Linked DNA regions of Homo sapiens. The protein of the gene in region 1 purifies or fractionates together with the protein of each later gene. This does not show direct contact. Each region holds a gene or a part of one and is shown on either strand. Other genes may lie near its edges. The genes, in order: SPATA19 and MTHFR.

Region 1 (3,907 bases):
CAAATGTCCTACTAAAAATGTTTTCTATCTTGATCTGGGCAGTGGTTAAACAAGTAAGTGTGTGTGTGTGTGTGTGTGTGTGTGTATGTGTGTGTGTGTAAAAATTTTTCTCCGCTGTATGCATATTTGTACATTTTACTGTATGCATTTTATAACATTGTAATCAAAAAGCAAATAGATTTATGTATGAGCTTCATTTTGACAACATAAGCACAGGATATGTCGTCGAGAAACTAATGAAAATTTTACTTCTGAAGTGAGTTAGAACAAGGTTGAAGGTATGGGGAAGAGATGGAACGTCCTTGAATGTATCTGTTCATGTTTTGATTTCTGAATCACATTAATATTTTAAATATTCAAAAATAAAATTACATCAATAAGGATGAAAACATAAATTTTAGGGGATAGCTGTAGAAACAGAGATGTTGACAGGTAATTTCATCTGCTATTTTACAATTTCCAGTCTTCCTTGGAATTAGGTAGGGGCCATAGGACTAGTTCTAGATCAAAAGCTCTAAGTAGGAGCCTCTGAGCTGAAAGGTGGAACACTGACCTGATTCCTCTCTGTGCTCTCTTCCCTGCTTTGGCAGTCATGGAGGTCGTGTCCTCTGAATGTGGACCTGTGAGTCTCCACATGGCACACAATTGCTCTGAAATTACCCAACTTGCACGAGAGCTTTTGAGAGTGAGAAATAAACATTTTGATTTGGAGGTTGGTTTGTTGCCTCAGTCCTCAGCAGAGCCTAGCCGATTCTGACTATGTCAGGGATGATATAAAATTGAGGCGAATTGTTGAGAGGGAAGACGTGTAGTGGCTGTATCAGGGGAATTGGAGAAAGTGATAAAAGGTTTTCTATAATCCTGAGAAGAATAAACGTGGGAAAATTTTTGGAATATTAGAGTTAGAAGAAAGCTAGGGACACAACTCTATCCCTTTCAGTATAAGACAAAGAAACTCAGACCAGAGGGACTAATGATTAGGTCAAGAGCACATGACAAGTTGTTGCGGGACAGGTTGTTACTGGTGGAGGGTGTTCAGGTTCTTGGCGTCTTAAACAAAGAAATGGACAAAACACACAAACGAAGGAAAGAATGAAGTAACAAAGGCAGAGATTTAACGAAAATAAAAGTACACTCCACAGGATGGGAGCAGACTGGTTACAGAATTTTCTGGGGTTTAAATACCCTCTAGGGGTTTCCCATTGGTTACTTGGTATATACCCTATGTAAATGAAGTAGTGGCTCATGATCAGTCTGATTGGTTGCGGAAAGTGACCAATCAGAGGCTGAAGTGAAGTTATAAAGTTATATCTCTATGCAAATGAAGACCTGGCCCACAACCAGCCTGATTGTGGGAGGGGAGCAATCAGAGATACTTTCAGTTTTTCATCTGCCATGCAGAAAAGGAGAGGGTTGCAAAGGGCGTAGCCTCTGGTCTTTTTGTTACTTGGGCACGGAAAGTTGGGGTTTTCCTTTTGATTTAGTTCTAGGAAGTCAGTGTAAATCGGCCTTAGGTTTCCTGGCTCCAGACCCCATCCTCCTGCCTGGAGGTGAGCTCCCAAATTAGTGCTTTCCCAAGAAAAGAATTCAAGGGTCAGCCAATGGTGTTAGACAGCAATCTTTTATTCAATGGTTCTGCTCCTTGAAGCAGGGTAACTCATAGGAGTGCACCCAGAGCCTGAAATGCAGGGGCTCTTGGCAACGGCATTTATACTCACATACATCATTTTCAAAGGGAGGCCATTGTCACATCACCATGGGTCAGCCAATCAGGTGGACACCTCCCTTCAATGACCTTCCTGTCCCATAGGAGTTCTCAGGCAGCTTCAATGGAAGGAGGGAGCCAAGAAGGGGGCCTGGTATACATTCAAAGATGATAATTACGACATGGATTGTGTATATTCTTGCTCGGAAAGGTGTAGGGCTTCCCTTCCTACCAATAACCAGTTCGGTAAGCAGCTTGGTGGTAGTCACATGGAATAATTTTTCATATATCTTCTCCCCCTGTGGGACCCTGCTGCACTTCATAGAGATCTTACAAATAAATTTGAGTAACAGTTGCGGGGGCTGGGTGGGAAGAGCTGAATTTCTAGGTTTTCTGAGGTCACCAACTTGCCAATTTGTTCCAGGACATTGACGTTGTGGAAAGTGAGGCTGTGTCTGTACTACATCATTGGTTGAAAAAAGTGAGTAAGATTTCTTTATGACTCAGGATATCCAAAATGCTAGAGAAGTGGTCTCAGTGGGTGTGGGGATCTGGACTTCCTTCTTCATGGAACTGGAACTCAAGTTCATTGCCAGACACCCTTCCTAGATTTGAGTCTAATTTCTTCACATGTGCTGGAGGACACTGTGGCTTGTGTCCTGGCAGGAAATGTGTTAGCACCACCACTAACGCCGTCCTGCTTCTCAAGCATCCTGGCTTAAGGGTTTCAGCTGCATCCTTCCCAGCTCAAGGGTGTCTCAGGAACACCTTGGGATAGGGCCAGGGACTTAGGGAGTTCTGAGGACTTTACAGGGAAGTAGCTTATTGTGGGAACAGTGAGGTAAGGAGTGTATGTGTGTGAATATGTGGTGTGTGAGTTGTGATGGAGAATGAATAAAAGGAAAGGAAGAGGAGAAGAAGACCCAGGGTTGGATGCAGAGTGACATTTTCAGAGGGAATTTCTCACCTTTCAGACAGAAGAAGAGGCTTCTCGGGGCATAAAGGAAAAGCTGTCCATCAACCACCCTTCCCAGGGTGTAAGGGAGAAGATGTCCACTGACTCCCCTCCCACCCATGGCCAGGACATCCACGTGACCAGAGATGTGGTAAATGAGAGTTTGAGACCTTGCCTGGGAGTAGCGGTGAGGGAGAGGGGAGAGGTGGGAGGTGCACCGTAAATGATTCTGGGCAAGGGTGAGGTGCTCGTCTGGGCTCTGTGCCAGCCCAGTTGGGGGCCACACTGGGCAGGAATCACATGGACCCTCTGGATTTCCCAGGTGAAGCACCACCTCTCTAAGTCTGATTTGTTGGCAAACCAGAGCCAAGAGGTCCTAGAGGAGAGAACACGAATCCAGTTCATAAGATGGAGGTAAGGTGTCCCACTTGCCCTGGGCGAAGGAAGGGGAGGGAGAGATGCGCAAGCCCCTCTCTTCACGAACCCTCAGATGCTCTTCTCTAGAGATGTCGTCTTTGGCTGACAAATTCCTCAGCCTTGCTTTGGGGTCTTAAGGGAATATCCTTGCTATCTTGAAAGCCCAGCTCATTTCTACATTTTTAAATGACTTGAGGGGTTGGAAAACTGGGCTTGCACTCCATTTCTTAAATGCTTCTGAATACATTTCAGATTTCTGTTATTTTTGCACTTGAGTTGCTCAGAAGTGGCTGCACTTTAAAGAGCTAAAAGAAAATAAGCTCTTAAAATGCAAAAGCCAAAGTTTTCATCTGCAACTGAGGTGTGGGGAGGCTTCCCAGCGCCCGAGGCTAGAATTCTGCACTCGGTTATGGTGGCTTCGCCAGCGTCCCGGGTGCCTGCCAGCTCACAGCCGTCCCCACTGCCTCTCGTGGCTCTGCAGATGCTGAGCCCCGAGGCCCAGGGAGCTGGCCTGAAGCCATCATGCTTCAGACAGAGGCTTTCCTATTTCCTTTCCTGCACCTGTGTTCACTGGGGGTCTCTGGAGCACATCAGCCACCCCTTCCCAGGAGAGGGACTGAGGGCTTAGACTGGTCCTACGGGAACCTGAAGGAGACTTCTCCCCTTCCTCCTCTCTTCCTCCTTTCCCTGCCGCATCATCGATGTTGATCTGTTGTATCAAGGAGGCTCCATTTCTCAAGAAACGGTTTCCATGTGCTTACCCCTTCTAGTGGCATCTGCCTTTTAGGAAGACTCAAATGCACAGTAATTTCATAACCAAAAGGAATAAC
Region 2 (3,807 bases), on another chromosome or scaffold:
TGTTCAGAAATGGCTTCTTCGTGGAGTCTTCCCTGACTGATTGGGAGAGGGGTGGCTGATAGCCCTCAGACCTGTCCAGACTGAGAAACTCACGTCCCCACTCCCCTCACCCTTTGCTTATGGACGTGCCAACGCCACAGTTCATTATTCCGCCCACATGGCTGCCAGTAGTCCTGATACCTTAGGTGTCTGCGAAAGGGCGTCTGGCAGGGCTGGGGTTGGTGACAGGCACCTGTCTCTCCCACAGGCCTACTTAGAGTTTTTCACTTCCCGCGAGACAGCGGAAGCACTTCTGCAAGTGCTGAAGAAGTACGAGCTCCGGGTTAATTACCACCTTGTCAATGTGAAGGTAGGCCAGGCCCCAGGGTTCCCACAGAGTACCAGGCCCTTCGTTGAGCAAACACCCAGCACCTAGCCTGGGCTAGGCATTGTGCAAGACAGAGAGATACAGGCAGAACTGGGGCCCTGCTCTTAAGGAGCTCCCAGCCTAGAGTGAGGGAGGCAGATCAATGTGTGACCACCAGCCAGTGTAAGTGGGAAAATCAAGTTCAGGAGAGGATGCTGTCGGGTCCAGAGGAGGGATATCTCACCTGGGAGGCCAGGGAAGGCTTCTCAGAGGGTCATCTGTGGGAATCACTGAGGACAAAGAGGAGTTGGCCAACAGGAGAGAAGGGTATTCCTGGGACAGGGCAGAGGACAGGCAGAGGCAGTGAGCTGCACCATCTGGGGAAACGGGGAACATGAGCAGGAGGAGGCGGGAGTGTTAAGCAGGGGCCAGGCCCGCAGAGATCATGGTTGTCCTGCTGGAATTTGAGTTTTCCCTCAATGCAAGGGAAGCCTTTCTCCAGCAGTGGGGTGGCTTGGTTCCTGCTTTATTTTAGGCAAATCACAGTGGATAGTCATACGGATGAGAGAGATTGGGGACGGCTAGAGCCGGGGAGGCCAGTGAAGAGACCCCTGGAGTGACCCAAGCCAAACACACTCCTGGAGGTGGGCTAGACAAGAGGGAATGGATCAGAGAGTGAGCAGGGGGTGCTCAAGGAGGAGAGGGGAAGTGGCCAGGACGCCTCTAGGTTCAGGCTTGTGTGGGGAGAGATATCATTCACAGATGCAGGCAGAGGAGGCCAGGAGCGGAGGCACAGGGAGAGGGGAGTGGAGGCGCAGGGAGAGTGGAGGCCGGGAGTGGAGGCGCAGGCAGAGGGTATTGAGCCCAGACAGCCTCATTGAGTCAAGGCTGTCCAGGCAGTGGGACTCCAGTTGTTCTTGGCCCAGGTCTTACCCCCACCCCACATCCCCTCAGGGTGAAAACATCACCAATGCCCCTGAACTGCAGCCGAATGCTGTCACTTGGGGCATCTTCCCTGGGCGAGAGATCATCCAGCCCACCGTAGTGGATCCCGTCAGCTTCATGTTCTGGAAGGTAAAGGAGCCGGGGGCAAGCTTGCCCCGCCCACCTGGAAAACCGTGGGGAGGGATTGGGACCAAGTCCCAAGCGTGTGCTGAAGGCCACACTGGACCCAGCCTTCAGGGCACACCCAGCTCTGACTCACCCATGTCACTGCTGATGCAGGGTGTTTATTTCTGGGCAGGGGTGGGAAGTGATACTGGCAGTGGGCCTTGTTCTATTCCGGGAAATGTCCTGTTGAGCAGAGCCCTTGGAGAGCCCTGTTAATCTTGCCTCTGTGTGTGTGTGCATGTGTGCGTGTGTGCGGGGGTATGTGTGTGTAGGACGAGGCCTTTGCCCTGTGGATTGAGCGGTGGGGAAAGCTGTATGAGGAGGAGTCCCCGTCCCGCACCATCATCCAGTACATCCACGACAACTACTTCCTGGTCAACCTGGTGGACAATGACTTCCCACTGGACAACTGCCTCTGGCAGGTGGTGGAAGACACATTGGAGCTTCTCAACAGGCCCACCCAGAATGCGAGAGAAACGGAGGCTCCATGACCCTGCGTCCTGACGCCCTGCGTTGGAGCCACTCCTGTCCCGCCTTCCTCCTCCACAGTGCTGCTTCTCTTGGGAACTCCACTCTCCTTCGTGTCTCTCCCACCCCGGCCTCCACTCCCCCACCTGACAATGGCAGCTAGACTGGAGTGAGGCTTCCAGGCTCTTCCTGGACCTGAGTCGGCCCCACATGGGAACCTAGTACTCTCTGCTCTAGCCAGGAGTCTGTGCTCTTTTGGTGGGGAGCACTTGCGTCCTGCAGAGGACCACAGTGGGTGGCACCTCCTGAGAAGGCGAGGAGAGTGGTTGTTGCCAACTAAGCCCTCGAACCAAGGCAGCCTCCAGAGCCAGCCTGGGACTCCCAGTGAACTTACACTTGGAGCCCGTGCAGTACAGGCAAAACACGCAAGGGCATCAGGCACTGGTGGCATCGTAGAAGAGATGTGGCAAAGTGCTGTACCCTTCCACCTCCTAGAGGTGGGCAGCTGGGCCCCACCTACTTGTGACTGAAGGGGCACACCACTGCCCTGCCTGCCCACTTAGCCGTCCATGGCACCAGCCCCCTGGATGGGCATTGGGCTGACACCTACCATGCTGCTTTTTGGCACAGTTGTCTATTCTGAGCCTTGAGAGAAAAAGTGCCCCTTAAGGGTTGAAGGCAGTCTGAACCCTTGTGCTTGGTGGGGCTCGTGGCCTTCCCCTTTTGCCTGGCTGTGGAGGCCTGATGCTGCCCCGTTCCCTGTCAGAGGCTAAGATGAGATTTGCCAGCACAGGGGCCCCAGATCTGCCTGGGCCTGTGCAGCAGCCCAGCTTCCTGGTGTATTTTTCAGGTAGGCCCTTGTCCTGCCAGCTGCCTTCCTCATCCCCTCGTCCTGTCCCAGAGGTTATCTGCCTGGCCTGGCTCCCCACGAGTCACCTGCAAGCCCCAGGGCCTGGGGGCAGTGACTGGCAGGTGCAGATGGGCTGTTTCGTGTAGTGGAAGAGCAGCCTGATGGCCAAGGGGGTGGACGCAATTGTGGGATGTCCTCTTTACTCCCTTCCTGGCCTCACTGGCTGGGGCAGAGGGGCAGCCGCTAGGAGAGACTGAAAGCAGCAGCTAGGACTGAGGAGTGGGTTTTATTGTCCTTCAGAGCTCTTCAAGCTGTCCCCTCTGTCATCACTCCCTGGATGTGTGGGGCATGGTTCCTTCCCTGGGAAGGCTAAGTTCAGTTCTGTTTTTTATTCTATGAGAACAAGTCACAGCTGCAGCTGGGCCCCATGCTCTGCCCCAAGCCCCCAACCCCGCGGTGCTCTGGCGGCTTCCTGTCCACTCTCGGGGCCCTTGGGGCCTGGCTTGCTCCAGGGTCTTGGGCTACTGGCAGCTCCTCTCCTTGGGCTCCTGGCTGCCAGGCGTTGGTGCCACTTCTTAAAGGCCTGGAACCAGGGAGGAGAGGAAATGCTATTGTTGTGGGCTTTCTCCGGGGTCTGTGCTGTGCCTGCTAGAGCAACCCCTGTACCCAGCTCCTTTTGTCCCCAGGGCCCCTCCCTCTGCCCCAAGCAGCCAGCCAGTCTTGCCTAGGCCAAATGCACAAGCTCAGAATAGATCTGATGGTGAGCTGGGAAGCTGTACTCAGAGCAGAGCAAATGAGGGAGGGGGCGCTCAGGACCCAGGCCCTCCATGGGCTAGTGTGAGTGGCAGCCATGCCTCATGCCACACCTTCTTCGCAAACTGATGGACCGGGTGGGCCTGGCCTGAGCTGGGGCCACAAATCAAAGCAAGGGCTCCAGCATCCAGCCTGTGTGTTCTGTAATGGAACTGACCCCCTCCCCTGAAAACGAAGGGGCCCCGGGGCTGGCAAGCAGGGAAAGCTCCACGGTGCGTGG

The links.
Region 2: the proteins of SPATA19 (region 1) and MTHFR purify together in Homo sapiens (affinity purification with mass spectrometry; 2 studies listed by BioGRID and IntAct, with this or other methods). This does not show direct contact.

The regions. Positions count from the first base shown.
Region 1 is NC_000011.10:133,843,413-133,847,319, reverse strand, and holds the start of SPATA19 (spermatogenesis-associated protein 19, mitochondrial precursor), read left to right. Parts: upstream 1-1,806; 5' UTR 1,807-1,873; coding exon 1,874-1,951; intron 1,952-2,129; coding exon 2,130-2,186; intron 2,187-2,679; coding exon 2,680-2,811; intron 2,812-2,982; coding exon 2,983-3,074; intron 3,075-3,907.
Region 2 is NC_000001.11:11,788,820-11,792,626, reverse strand, and holds part of MTHFR (methylenetetrahydrofolate reductase (NADPH)), read left to right. Parts: intron 1-247; coding exon 248-349; intron 350-1,300; coding exon 1,301-1,420; intron 1,421-1,728; coding exon 1,729-1,947; coding exon of another isoform or gene 1,948-2,087; 3' UTR 2,088-3,167; coding exon of another isoform or gene 3,168-3,357; 3' UTR 3,358-3,583; coding exon of another isoform or gene 3,584-3,807. Other genes in the region: uncharacterized protein C1orf167, read right to left, coding at 3,584-3,807. UniProt on the Homo sapiens protein: Catalyzes the conversion of 5,10-methylenetetrahydrofolate to 5-methyltetrahydrofolate, a cosubstrate for homocysteine remethylation to methionine. Represents a key regulatory connection between the folate and methionine cycles.